Linked DNA regions of Homo sapiens. The protein of the gene in region 4 interacts with the protein of the main gene of each other region in a pairwise test. Each region holds a gene or a part of one and is shown on either strand. Other genes may lie near its edges.

The links. Proteins that work in one complex are often made in the same cells at the same time.
Region 1: the proteins of KAT7 (region 4) and CEP126 interact in a two-hybrid assay, tested with the Homo sapiens proteins (one large-scale study listed by IntAct).
Region 2: the proteins of KAT7 (region 4) and PPID interact in a two-hybrid assay, tested with the Homo sapiens proteins (one large-scale study listed by BioGRID and IntAct).
Region 3: the proteins of KAT7 (region 4) and WDR33 interact in a two-hybrid assay, tested with the Homo sapiens proteins (one large-scale study listed by BioGRID and IntAct).

Annotation. Positions count from the first base shown.
Region 1 is NC_000011.10:101,981,010-101,984,509, reverse strand, and holds part of CEP126 (centrosomal protein of 126 kDa), read right to left. Parts: intron 2,622-3,500; coding exon 2,546-2,621; intron 1-2,545. UniProt on the Homo sapiens protein: Participates in cytokinesis. Necessary for microtubules and mitotic spindle organization. Involved in primary cilium formation.
Region 2 is NC_000004.12:158,716,897-158,720,396, reverse strand, and holds part of PPID (peptidyl-prolyl cis-trans isomerase D), read left to right. Parts: intron 1-1,110; coding exon 1,111-1,217; intron 1,218-3,196; coding exon 3,197-3,385; intron 3,386-3,500. UniProt on the Homo sapiens protein: PPIase that catalyzes the cis-trans isomerization of proline imidic peptide bonds in oligopeptides and may therefore assist protein folding. Proposed to act as a co-chaperone in HSP90 complexes such as in unligated steroid receptors heterocomplexes.
Region 3 is NC_000002.12:127,804,672-127,808,171, reverse strand, and holds part of WDR33 (pre-mRNA 3' end processing protein WDR33), read left to right. Parts: intron 1-3,500. UniProt on the Homo sapiens protein: Essential for both cleavage and polyadenylation of pre-mRNA 3' ends.
Region 4 is NC_000017.11:49,795,181-49,798,680, forward strand, and holds part of KAT7 (histone acetyltransferase KAT7), read left to right. Parts: intron 1-1,569; coding exon 1,570-1,746; intron 1,747-3,138; coding exon 3,139-3,378; intron 3,379-3,500. UniProt on the Homo sapiens protein: Catalytic subunit of histone acetyltransferase HBO1 complexes, which specifically mediate acetylation of histone H3 at 'Lys-14' (H3K14ac), thereby regulating various processes, such as gene transcription, protein ubiquitination, immune regulation, stem cell pluripotent and self-renewal maintenance and embryonic development.

The DNA of each region.
Region 1 (3,500 bases), on a different chromosome or scaffold from region 4:
TCATCATTGGTCAATGAAAACACCTGGAGTCTTATTATCGATGTTAATAACCTCTTTGATATCCACTTCTTCCAGCTTACTGATAGACTCTGAAGGTATATTTTTTTGCTTACGTAATGAGGTCAGACATAATTTTTTCTCACTTGACATACAGAATCCTTCAGTCACTACCTTGTTCATCATCACTGAACATAGTTGCAGGCCAGAGGTTGTGCCAGGAATGCACAATTGTGTCTTTAGTCCCTGTGTTCCAAGTGTTTGCAACAGCATGTATGGCATCTTTCATGCTAAACTCGTTTTGAAAACCTTCTACATCCACATCTCTGTTCACTGTTGCTGGCATGCTGTTCAAGAAAGTGTTTATATGTATTTACTCTTCATCTACCTAACGATAGTCTGGTCACACAGCTGAATTAATGAAGTAATATTTGGGGGAAAGCACGTGGCATAAAGATTATTTTTGATGAGAATTTCAGCTGGAGGATGAAAAGAACAGTTGTCAAAGAATAACAAAATCTTGCAGTCATCATTCAATCCAGCTTCCCTGATATAAAGTGTTTGTGAAACCAATCAGAAAAGATGTCCCTGGTGATCCATGTCCTTTTGTTAGCACATTAATGGACTGGTAAGAAATTCACTCCTTGAAATCAGTGAGGACACAAGCTTTTGCCTATCATAGCAAATTTACACTTGGGCGTGACTGAGTCATTAGCACATCCTAGCAGTTATTCTGTTATTCTTAATTCTTGTAGGGGCTGTCTCATCAGCTATAGTCAATGTTTTTTTGAGTAACAACACCAAACCAGTGATGTTCATCAGTAACATATACTTCTTCTGGTGTCAGATATTCATCAGCGATGACCTTGGCAAACTCTTCAATGAATTTCTCTGCTGCTTTGTAATCAGCAGACGCTTGATCACCACAAATCTTTAAAAATAATGCTGTGTCTTAAATTTCTATAACCAGCCTGTTGAATATTCATGGTTCTCTTCAATTTTCAGTTCATCATGATAGATCTTTGCTTGTTTCATGATCAGCATACCATTAAGTGGCATGTGCTCATGCGACGCTGATGGATCCACTCTTTGACTTCATGGTTGAAATCCTATGCAGTGTTTAATGTTTTGCATTAACTTCTGTTCATCTCTTCCAAAGCAGAACTTCAACAGTTTATCCTTCTGTTTCTTCAGGTCATATATTGTGGTCATTCCAACACCATCCTTTTCTATAAGACATTTTACACTTAGGTTGCTGGTGTAGTTTCTCCAAGTTTGACTTTCTGGGCTATTGATAAACAGAAATGTTTCCTCTTTTTCTTATCACTGCTACCCACAGGGGTATCTTCAGGTCTTTTTGATATTTTCAACAATATCTTTACATCACAAAGCAGAGAAAAAGCAAAAAAATACAGTGAGTAATGCATGTAGGTCTTGGCCCCATGTGGGGTCTCGTGGGGAATCTGCCATTGGTACATGTATCATTTTATTACTCCTTGTGAGCATGCTTACATGGGGGAATCTGGGTGTGCATGGGAAAGATATAGTGCAGCTGAAGAGGGCTGAGAGGATCTTTTTTCCCCTTGGGGATGCTAAATAAACTGTATGGTATGAGCTTGTGTTTTAGCTGTGACCCATCATATGAAGTCAGGTGTAAAATTTTCCATTTGTGGTATCATGTCAGGGGTCAAAAAATTTTGGATTTTGGAGCATTTTTGATTTTGAAATATTTGGATTAGGGATATTCTACATGTATATCCAATACCTACTTGTAAGCAGAAGATTAGCTCTCAATAATCATTTACTGAATGAACAGATACAAATTAAAATATATGTGAAAATACAATATAAGTAGAATAACATGCAAGTAGTAATGAAACATCTTCAACTAATATAAGAATTAGAATCCTTCATAGCTAAATAATTTGCAGACATCAGTAAGAAAATTTCGAACTCTAATATCTAAGAAAAAAGAGTACAAAGAGACAGTTCACCAAAAAATACACAGAAAAGCAATTAAGCATAATATTAATGAAAGGTATAGAAATCAAAACTAATATAATACTATTTTTCTGTCTATAGCAAATATGAAAAGATTCTACCTCAAGTTGACATACACCACTGGACACACACTACTAGAACAATTTTGAATAATACTTTTCCGGAAAATACTTTAGCAATATATATGAACAGCCATATCAATGCTTATTTCTTTTGATCCAGTATTCATTTAATACATGGAGTTTAATTCAATAAATATTTACTGGGTGGCATTTACATGTCAGTTACTGTAATTTTAATTCTGGAAATCTAACCTACAGAAATAAGTAAAAATCAGAAAATAACTTGATGTAGAAAGATGTTCAATACATTATTATTTAGAATAAAGGAACACTGACAATGACCTGGATGTGCAGGGGTGAGGAGAGTTCAGGTTTTAAATGGTGCTTTAACAATTACATAATACGTTAGCATCTGAGAATAGGCATACAAGAAAAAAAATCACTGGGAACAAAGATCAGAGAAAAATGTTTAAACTAAAACATACCTTCTTCAATATAAGAAGTACCCCTTGTAGTTTGTTTTGGCTCACTTGAACTTAGCAGGACACTTTGTCCAAAATTCTACAAAAATAGAATATTGAATTAAAACATATTTCCATATTTAAAATTCATAATATGTACATGAACTTTTAAAAAACTTTTAATTGCTGTATATATTTTTAGCTACAATTGTTCATGTAACTTGTATATTACATTTTTTAGAGCTGAATACAAGAATTATTATAATAAAGAATTTCTATGGTAATGGAATATTATGAAAAATGTTTTATGTCCACAAAAAAATTTTCAGATTATGATATTGTCCTGGATATTTGGAAGAGGTAAAGTGAGTTGGATGGTAATCAAAAGTGCTAATTAGGCTGACACGGTGGCTCATGCTTGTAATCCCAACACTTTGGGAGGCCGAGGTGGGCAGATGACAAGGTCAGGAGATCGAGACCATCCTGGCTAACACGGTGAAGCCCTGTCTCTACTAAAAATATAAAAAATTAGCCAGGAGTTGTGGCACGTGCCTGTGGTTCCAGCTACTTGGGAGACTGAGGCAGAAGAATCACTTGAACCCAGGAGATGGAGGTTGCAGTGAGCTGAGACTGTGCCACTGCACTCCAGCCTGGGTGACAGAGCGAGACTCTGTCTCAAAAATAAAAAAAAGTGCTAATTAAAGAAAAGGTAAAAAATTACCTTAAAGTTTCTAACCTAGTTGGTTTGTCATTGTAAGGGTGAATCATAACTATTAGCTAAAAGCATCTGACTACAGCTAATGCCAAGGATAGGTAATTATCTTACGTGACAAAACTTAAAACACAAATAGCTGCCCCAATGCTGCACAGAACCTTGAAAACGGAAGTCTCAGAACACTGGCAAAAAGTGTACACATCTAACACTTTCTGAGAGATACCAACTTCCCTTCCCTGAATATGGTCTACCTCCTTCTTTATT
Region 2 (3,500 bases), on a different chromosome or scaffold from region 4:
TTAAACGATTTATTAAGAAAAAATTAACTTTTTAAAAAATATTTAAAATGTTTACTTTCATGTTTAATAAAAACTTGAAATATGCTAATAAACTATATGCAGAAAATATTTAACATAGCAAGTGTGAGACTGCTATCTTTAGAAAGGTCTGCCTGCAAGAGTAGCACTTGTTTGGAGTCTGGGAACTTGACACTTGTACCATTTCCTAAATAGTAATGGTGATTTACTATGCCTAGCCTATTTGTACAAACATGAATGTGTGCTCTCTTTTGGGGAGTCTGGAATTTTGGTACATGCTAGGTAGAGTGTGCCCAATAAATACCTTGGGTGCTGAGTCTCTAATTGGCTCTCCTGGGCAGAAATACTGTGTACATGTTGCTGCATTTTTGTTGCTGGGGGAAGTGTGTGTTCTGTAGCACTTCATGGGACGGAGAAAGCATAAGGAAGCCTGCACATGGATTTTTCCAGACTCTGCCTGTGTCTTTCCCGTCATCTCGCTGTGTATCCTTACCACTGTGATCCAACCACATACTGATTTGTGTGAGCTCTAGGGTTCTCTGAACATGAAAGCAATCTTGGTAACCTTTGACACAAAGTGATATATTTGCTGAAAATTTTCCATTAGGGTAGAACAAATCTACTGGGAATCATTGGTCTGTATTCAGCAGACATTATTGAGTAACTAATATGTACTATGTGTACATGCACATAGTTATAAGGATGTAAAACAATACAGTTGGTGTACTTAAGGAGATCATTGCTGGAAGGGGCAGATCATAATGCCATATGTTATGTAGGCAGAGTCAAGATACTATGGGAGAAAAATTAGGACATACAGCTTAGGGATTTCAGTGACAGTTTTATAGGGGAGGTATCATTTGAACCGATTTTCTGAATGTTAGCAGGGATCAGGCAGTGAAAATAGGTTGGATTCAGATGGTGAAAAGCCTGAAGCGTTTGGAGTTGCGGAGACGGGTGGGGAGCGACAAACAGGAGAGAGACATGACTAGAGTCATGCACTACAAAGTTGTCTTACGTACGTATCCATTAGTAAGCATTGCTAAAGGCATCCATGTCTCAGTCACTAATAGCCATTTTCCTTTTTTGTAGTTATTAAGAAATTTATGATTCAGGGTGGAGACTTCTCAAATCAGAATGGGACAGGTGGAGAAAGTATTTATGGTGAAAAATTTGAAGATGAAAATTTCCATTACAAGGTAAAGTAGAGAAAATGCATGTTATTGCTGATAAAAAGATTGTTATATATCTGGAATACTTGTTGGATTAAGACACCAAAAAATGTTTCAAGTGTGCTTAGATTCTCCATTTCTTGTAATAGGAATCACTTTTGTAAATAATGGTTCTTTAATATGGAAAAGTTTTCATTCAGTAATGATTAATTCAGCATTATTTCATTGTGATCCAGTTTTTATATGCTTCAGTTAAGCCAGTGAGTTTTTAAATGCGACCAGCATCTGGCAAAATTGTTTCCAGGAAAAATGTTTCCATTGTTGGAAGGATGGTAACTTGTGCATCCTTATCCTTGAATTTGAAGAGCAACAAAACCATCACTAATATCCAGGATGTCAGGGGATTTGCACACTAGCAGATATAGTTAAATGTCCAAGCTCCTAAAGGACTTCAGTGGTGCCTGTGCCTTCTTGTCTTCGTTGTCCCAAGATGTAATTGGGGTATATTGCATCATTCAAGTTATAAGAATGGACATGTAAGTACAAAAGTAAAGTGATATTTTTGGAAATAAGGAATATGAGCAAGGGTATTAGGATAATTTGAAAAAATGTCGTCAGTCTTCCAGTCAGTGTTTATTGAGCCACTATCACTGGCACCAAAGGGTTTATAAAAATGAAAGGCCTTGATGACAAGGAATTTATAATCCTACCTCAGAGACAAGATTAAGATACATGGGACTACTGGAGAATAATAGTATATAAATAAATGCTAAATTGATTGAATATCCTTGCTTGTATAACATTGCTAATACTGTCTATATACTGCAGGAGAAAGATGTGATTTATGCAGTCTGAATTATTATGGAAGTCATTGAGGAGGAATGGCTACTTGGGCTGTGCAGACTGGGTCTTGCAAGGCGGCAACATGTCTGAGATTTGGTTAGGCAGGAACTGTAGTATTGATGCAGAATTTAAAAAGGGACGTCGGTGAGGAAAGACAAAGGCAAGAGACGTTGAGGAAATAAAGTTCTAGTTACTGTTGTACCAAAGGAAGCTACCAGAAGGATGAAAACTAAAGGTGATGTGATGATCACATTGACATAGAGAAAAGGGGCCTATAGACAAGACACATGATTCTTGCTTTCTATAAACGTGGTGGCCTTAAAATCTGAATTTGATTTAGACTGAGGGGAGTAAAAGGCATTTTGGTGGGGTGGGGGGTGTCATGAAACATTATATAACATGAGAGTTACGGTGCATGCACCAACAAGGAATACATTTAGAAAGCCTAGGAGATAAAGTGAAAAGGTTAAGAAATTGGGTTTCATAGATCCTTTGACAGGATTATGCCAAGGTAGAATTTTGATTTCAAGATGTATGCAGCAGTTTCTTTTGAGCACTCTCCGAAGAGGTGATTCATCTGGGATGAAAACCTAATCCAAATCCTGTATGATTTGGATTCTTTTGAGATTAGGAAAGTACCAAACTGAATGTCTTGGGTAAATTCAGTATCCCATTATTGTTCCAGTTTATTGATGTTTTGTAAAGGAAGACTTATACTGTAGGCATATTTATGAATTTGGAAGACCGTTCAGGTCTTCCCAGAAAAAAAGAGCATTCATCATAAAGAGGGCAAAATATATTACAAGAGTTTCATAATGCTGCATCTTCATTTTAAAGGTGAAGTGTAAGTATTTTCTCATGGCCAATTTAGAAATAACCCTCCCCCCGACTATTGTTTCTGTTACCTATTTACTTTGATAAGGTTTTTTAAAGTTTAAAGTGATTAAGTGCCCCATGTTTTGTGAATTAAAGGTTGCAGTTTATAAAAAAATAAAAAGTAATTAAAAAATTTTATAAGTGAAAAGTAAAAAAAAGTAGTTTGATCTAAATGGTAGTATAGTGCACCCCAGTTTTATGTTCAGTAAAAGAACAGTTCAGACTAACACACAATTCAGAAAAGAACACATCTAACCTTGGTTTTCTTTTAATTTTTATTTCTACAGCATGATCGGGAGGGTTTACTGAGCATGGCAAATGCAGGCCGCAACACAAACGGTTCTCAGTTTTTTATCACAACAGTTCCAACTCCTCATTTGGATGGGAAACATGTGGTGTTTGGCCAAGTAATTAAAGGAATAGGAGTGGCAAGGATATTGGAAAATGTGGAAGTGAAAGGTGAAAAACCTGCTAAAGTAAGTAAAAAGTTACAGTGAAATACACTTATTATCTTAGTTGCTATCTTTTTGAGACGGAGTCTCGATCTGTTCCAGGCTGGAGTGCAGTGGTGCGGTCTCGGCTCACTGCAGC
Region 3 (3,500 bases), on a different chromosome or scaffold from region 4:
ATGAATTTAATTGGTGACATCATTTTCAGTTTTAAACATTAACTCAAATATCTTTGTTGAAATTTACTGACAATCTCATTCCTCTGATAAGTTAATCACTCCTTTCTCTGCTATTAAAGCATTTTGTATATATCTTTAATGTATTTTGACTATACCTTCTCCACTACTTGTGAATACTTTGGTTTTTAGTTTGTTTGTTTGTTTTCTGAGACAGGGTCTCACTTTGTCACCCAGGCTGGAATACAGTGGCATGATCATGGCTCACTGTAGCCTCTAATTCCTAGGCTCAAGCGATCCTCCCACTTCAGCCTTTCAAAGTCTTGGGAGTCATGAGTCCCTGCTGCCAGCTCTTTGTGAGCACGTTGAAGACGTGCTATAGTACCTTATATTTTTGTATTCCTAAAACCTAGGCATTATACAAATTGAAGAATGAATTTTCTACAAAAATTCCCCTCATGACTTGGTTTATTTCTGATCTTTGGCTGTTGCTTATTAACTCTTTGCCTAGATTGTATTCTCCTTCCTTTCACACTATTCCTATTCTGTTCAGTCCTTAAAATCCAGCTAAATCCAATTAATGAGGTCTTCAGTGACTCTCATTTATTCATAACTTGTTTAGTTAGTCTAGTGTCTGTGTGACTGCCTTCTGTTACTTTGTGTCCCATTAGTACCTGCCTCTATGCCTTACCATTTTGAGCAGATCCTTGAGTGGGATGATACGTGCAAAACTGTGCTTTAGGCAGTTTGTTGTTATAGGCACCTGCTCTCTACTCTGTTTGCTCTCAACTTAGTAGGTGGAGCAGCAATTTTCCTTTTTTGGTATATGGAATATTCTGGTAACTTTTTTGCAACTTTAAGAAATTTCAAGCCAGGTGCAGTGGCTCACATCTGTAATCCCAGCACTTTGGGAGGCCGAGGCAGGTGGATCACCTGAGGTCAGGAGTTCAAGACCAGCCTGGCCAACATGGTGAAACCCCATCCCTACTAAATACAAAAAAAATTAGCTGGGCGTGGTGGCACATTCCTGTAATCCCAGCTACTTGGGAAGCTGAGGCAAGAGAATTGCTTCAACCTTGGAGGCGGAGGTTGCAGTGAGCTGAGATTGCGCATTGTACTTCAGCCTGGGCAACAAGAGTGAAATGCCGTCTTAAAAAAAAAAATTTCAAACATGCAGCAAAGGTGAAAGAATACTACAGTGAACACCCATATGCCTTCTGTTTGGATTCGACTGTTAACCAACATTTAACCATTTTGCTTTAACTCTATATCCTCCCTTTCTTGAATGATTTGAAATTAAATTGCAGATATACTGCTTTTCCCTGTAATACCTCAGGATGCATGTCTTTGAAATAATGCTTTTTCCTACGCTTTTCTACATTTTTATTTCAAGCCAGTCTCCAGCTGAAAACATATAAAATCATTATCATACCTAAGGCAATTAGCATGAAATCTTTAGCATCATCTTTTTTTTTTTTTCGAATGAGTTGGTGTAGTTCTATTTTTTTTTGGCTTTGTTCCACAGTTGTTGAAGAGTTGGTTTAATTCTAGGTTACACAGAGTTTAGGGTAGAACAAAGACCAAAGAGCAGTCTCTGGCAAGATTCTGGGCTGGTTTTACTTTAAATTCATAGCTAAGGCAGGAATGGAGTGAAAACAACTAAAGAGAGGCCGGGCGCAGTGGCTCACGCCTGTAATCCCAGCACTTGGGAGGCTGAGGTGAGCAGATCACCTGAGGTCAGGAGTTTGAGACCAGCCTGGCCAACATTGTGTAACCTCGTCTCTACTAAAAATACAAAAATTAGCCGGGTGTGGTTGCGCATGCCTGTAGTCCCAGCTACTCGGGAGACTGAGGCATGAGAATCGCTTGAACCCAGGAGGTGGAGGTTGTAGTGAGCTGAAATTGTGCCACTGCACTGCAGCCAGGGCAACAGAGCGAGACTGTCTCAAAAAAAAAAAAAAAAAGAAAAAGAAAAACAACTAAAGAGATGATGAGCCACTGTAAGCATTTTAATTTATTTTATTAATATTTTTTATTTAAAATTTTAAAATTTTGTTTATTTTGAGACAGGGTCTTACTTTGTCATCCAGGTTGGAGTGCAGTGGCACAATCACAGCTCACTGCAGCCTCAACCTCCCAGCTCAAGCAATCTGCCCACCTTGGCCTCACAAAGTGCTAGGATTACAGGTGTGAGCCACCACACCTGCGGTTTTTTTTTTTTTTTTAAACAAAAGTTTATTCTTTAATGTGCAGTAGACTCCAGCTTCAAGACGACACTTCATTCCAGCTATAGGTGGCAACAGATATTATGGCAGGGAATACAGATGTTTAAATACGAATGAAATCAAGGGTCACCATTGCTTCAGGCACAGGGCACAGCTTACTTTCTGCCAGATTTTTAAATTCCACCTGTGGCCGGAGCCCCTTCCAGGAGGCTTTCGCTTTTAGCTCCTTGTGTTTCTTTCGTTCCTTTTCTTGTTTCTGCTTGAAAGCCTTATTCATCTTCTTGGCCTGCTTTTTGGGCAGTTTCAAAGGGTTCTTCTTGCCACCTTTGAGGCCGGACCTGGCACCTGCTGCCCCTTCCTGACTCTGTCACCACAAACAGCTAGCCTCATCTTTTTAAAGAACGTTCCATATTTTGGAATTTCTTATTGTATGCTTAAAATGTCATGTATTTTGTTTCTCAATTCCTGTTGTTTCTCTATTCCTTTTATTTCCTGTAAACTAGAAGTTAGATCTAGAGAGGTTTGACTAAATTTGGGTCAAATATTTTTGGCAAAAATACTTCATAGAGGCCAGGTGCGCTGGCTCATGTCTGTAATCCCAGCACTTTGAGAGGCTGAGGCAGATGGATTGCTAGAGCCCAGGAGTTCAAGACCAGCCTGGACAATTTGGCAAAACCCTGTCTCTATTTTAAAAAAAGAAAAAAAAATGCTGGGTTTGGTGGCCTGCGCCTGTAGTCCCAGCTACTTGGGAGGTTGAGACAGGAGGATGGCTTGAGCCAGAGAGGTGGAGGCTGCAGTGAGCCGACATCCTGCTGCTGTACTCCAGCCTAGGCGACAAGAGAACCCTGTCTCAAAAAAAAAAAAAAAAAAAAAAAAAAAAAGAAAAAACTTCACAGGTGATGATACGTGATTTATGTTGTGAGGATATACTTCTAGCTATGAGCCTTCAATAAGGTGGTAGGGACTGCCAGATGTTAGCTTGCGTTATTTACAATGCCAAATTTACCTGGTTAATGTGTCCATTGGATTTCTTCATCAAAGAGGTATATTTTTCCCTTTGCAGTTATACTTGATCTGTGGGGTGATAACTTTAGCATCATGTGAGTACCTCACTTCTCAAAATATTTTTCACTTAATGATTGATGATTATTAGCTGAGTCATTTATTGGGGGTTTTCTAATTTTGTTATTTGTTTATATTCATTAACTGTTTTCTGTAATAAAGAGCTTTTGCTTTCCCCCTTTCGTGTTTAAATGTTTAAATTTTGAAATAAATATG
Region 4 (3,500 bases):
AGATATGGATATGCTAATTATTTTGATTTCATCATTACACAATGTATACGTCTATCAGAACATCACAGTATACTCTATAAATATGTACACTTACATGTCAATTAAAACAAAACTAAGACTGCTAGGGGCTTACACGGAGGGAATTGAGCCAGCATCACCACGATGGTGTTGTTGGAGAGTGAGCAGTTCCTGACGGAGCTGACCAGACTTTTCCAGAAGTGCTGGACATCGGGCAGCATCTATATCACCTTGAAGAAGTATGGTGGTGGAACCAAACCCGTTCCAAAGAAAGGTTCTGTGGAGGGCTTTGAGCCCTCAGACAAGTGTCTGTTAAGAGCTATCGATGGGAAAAAGAAGGTCAGCACTGTGGTGAGCTCCAACCAAGTGAATAAGTTTCAGATGGCTTATTCAAACCTACCGAGTGCTAACATGGATGGGCTGAAGAAAAGGGACAAAAAGAACAAAAGTAAGAAGACCAAAGCAGCAGCACAGTAAAGGGCACAAATTTCCTGCTTTCACCAATTAACCACTGAATTGTTATTTTTTCCTTTGGTTTTTACTTTTGGCCACATAGCTAGGTTTCTGGTTCCCCTACACTAGGTGTTTTCACATAAGATGTAGGGTCCTTTTGCAAAGAATAGTTGCAATGTTTATAGGGCAGTTGTGGTAAGAATCTAGTTTATTTTACATTTGGCTAATTGGTCTGTACTGCATGGTTATATACTCCTGGATTATAGATTAAAAGTCTCTGTAGTCATCTCTGTGAAGAGCAAGCTATGATTAAACATGTCTCTTTATAAAAAAAAAAGCACAAAAAAACTAAAACATATCTACATATATTTTTTAAAAATGCTTTAATTTCAGCTTTGAATTTTCCTTCATTTCCTTTGTCCTCAGGTTGGAGATATAAAAGGGCTGCTGAGTGCCTCAGAATAGGTTTTTCTATCCAAAAAACTTAAAATGCTGCATTCCTGCTTTACCTTTATGAATCTATTATGACAGTGCCAGAGAGGGTAATAAGAAAGAAAAAAAAATCGGCCCCTTAAGAAAGGAAATCGTTTTGTTTGTTGTTATATCTTTGGTAATAGAATATCTGTTTTATGGTGGGTTAGAAAAAGGGAAGAATGAGAGGATGCAGTTAATATTTATAAAGCACTCTGTACCACGGATCATGTTAAGTGCTTCACATGCATTATCTCACCTATTCCTCACCACAGTGTTATGAGGAATGTGCTACTAGTATTTTCCTTTTCAATAGGTCAGGAAACAGGCTTGGAGAAAATAACTTGCCCAAGATGCCACAGCTAGTTGGTATGGTGGAGTGGAGTTGAATCAAGTTCAGTCCTAATTCCAGAACCTAAACTTATTAATGCTGTACTACATTACATCTGTATACCTGAGCTAGGCTCTTTTGCTTATATTTTATTTAATTAAATAGATATTTTAAGGATTTGTTGGATTTTGTGAAATATGAAGAGGAGGAGGAGCGATATTCTGATAAATTATATGGATAGGAAGTAAAACAGATTTCCATCTTTTTTCTTTATTTTCTTTTAAAATTGGGATCAGATTCCAGTCCTGTTCGAAATCTGCAGTCTTTTGGCACTGAGGAGCCTGCTTACTCTACCAGAAGAGTGACCCGTAGTCAGCAGCAGCCTACCCCAGTGACACCGAAAAAATACCCTCTTCGGCAGACTCGTTCATCTGGTTCAGAAACTGAGCAAGTGGTTGATTTTTCAGATAGAGGTGAGTGGGTATGGTATGACTTAGACCTATTACAGAGCATCTGGGTGAAATTCTTTTTAAGGAGGGCTTGGGGCCACTGCAGGTAGATGCCTAATACTTCAGCTAGATGAATGCTGTTTGCTTGCTTCCTTTCTTATGTCTTTTTTTTTTTTTTTGAGACGGAGTCTCGCTCTATTGCCCAGGCTGGAGTGCAGTGGTGCAATCTTGGCTCACTGCAAGCTCTGCCTCCCGGGTTCACGCCATTCTCCTGCCTCAGCCTCCTGAGTAGCTGGGACTACAGGCGCCTGCCACCACGCCAGGCTAATTTTTTGTATTTTTAGTAGAGACGGGGTTTCACTGTGTTAGTCAGGATGGTCTCGATCTCCTGACCTCGTGATCCACCCGCCTCAGCCTCCCAAAGTGCTGGGATTACAGGTATAAGCCACCATGCCCAGCCTCCTTTCTTATACATTGCTGAGGACAGTTTGATATCAGAATATTCTCAAGGTCCAGAGTAGCTGGAGTATATTAAATCGTACCTGTAATAGGAAAAAGAGACTGGGCCCTTCTTAACCACATTTGAAAAGGGCTTGAAGCAGACTTTTCTTATAGCCATACTTCTCAGTCCATTTATCTCCAAATTTCTTAATGCAGAGGTCACAGACTGGTGAACTACTTCTAGCTGTCCGCATGGTTGGTTGGTTTGCTTGCACAGTGTTTAAAATTTTTTAAATTTGTTGCTAGTATTTGAAAACACAATGATTTCATATAAAAACCTGGATTAATAGTTTATTTTAAACAATGAAAAGATCTGGGAACACTGGGCGGCCAATCACCCATAGTAATAATTGGCTGGAGTTGAATAGTAGTTGTCCCCTTTAGATGGACAATGAGCTGTCTCTTTGGCCTTGCTGAGCCCCTGTAGGCATTTGGTTTGCAATTCCTGATTTAGAGTCTGGAATTTCAAGATTGAATTGTTAGACTACAAACAGGCTCACTCAAGACTCTAAGTCCATTCACATCTTACACCAAGCCTGTTCAGTGTCATCCAGAAAGATAATCACTGTCACTTATCTTCTGTCCTGTGTATCTCCTGGAAGGGAAGTGGGATAGTAATGTTTTAAAAACGTATTTCCATCTAGTTTTGATTATCCATGATTAGCAACTCAGGAGAAATACAGATAGGTGTAATAGATGAAGTACAAATTTAATTTTAATCAGAATTTAAAGTTGCACAAAATGGATGGTGTAGAAGTGCCTCTTCATTTTCCATTTAGCCATCTAGCAGATGAATAGCTGAAAGTTACTGGTTAAATCATAGAAAAAGAACCTGGGAAGCCCATAAACTCTGAATAGTAAACTTCTAAATAAATGAACTCCACTCATAACTTCTACCAATTGCTTTTGCTTTAGAAACTAAAAATACAGCTGATCATGATGAGTCACCGCCTCGAACTCCAACTGGAAATGCGCCTTCTTCTGAGTCTGACATAGACATCTCCAGCCCCAATGTATCTCACGATGAGAGCATTGCCAAGGACATGTCCCTGAAGGACTCAGGCAGTGATCTCTCTCATCGCCCCAAGCGCCGTCGCTTCCATGAAAGCTACAACTTCAATATGAAGTGTCCTACACCAGGCTGTAACTCTCTAGGTCAGTGTGCCCTAGCTTCATGACATCCTTTGTTCTGTGGTTCTCTCTCCCAGGATCATCCAGAAATGTTTTGTGTTCTGTTGGGATTTAGCTTCTTAGGCTCTTCAGTGGTCATGTGCTGA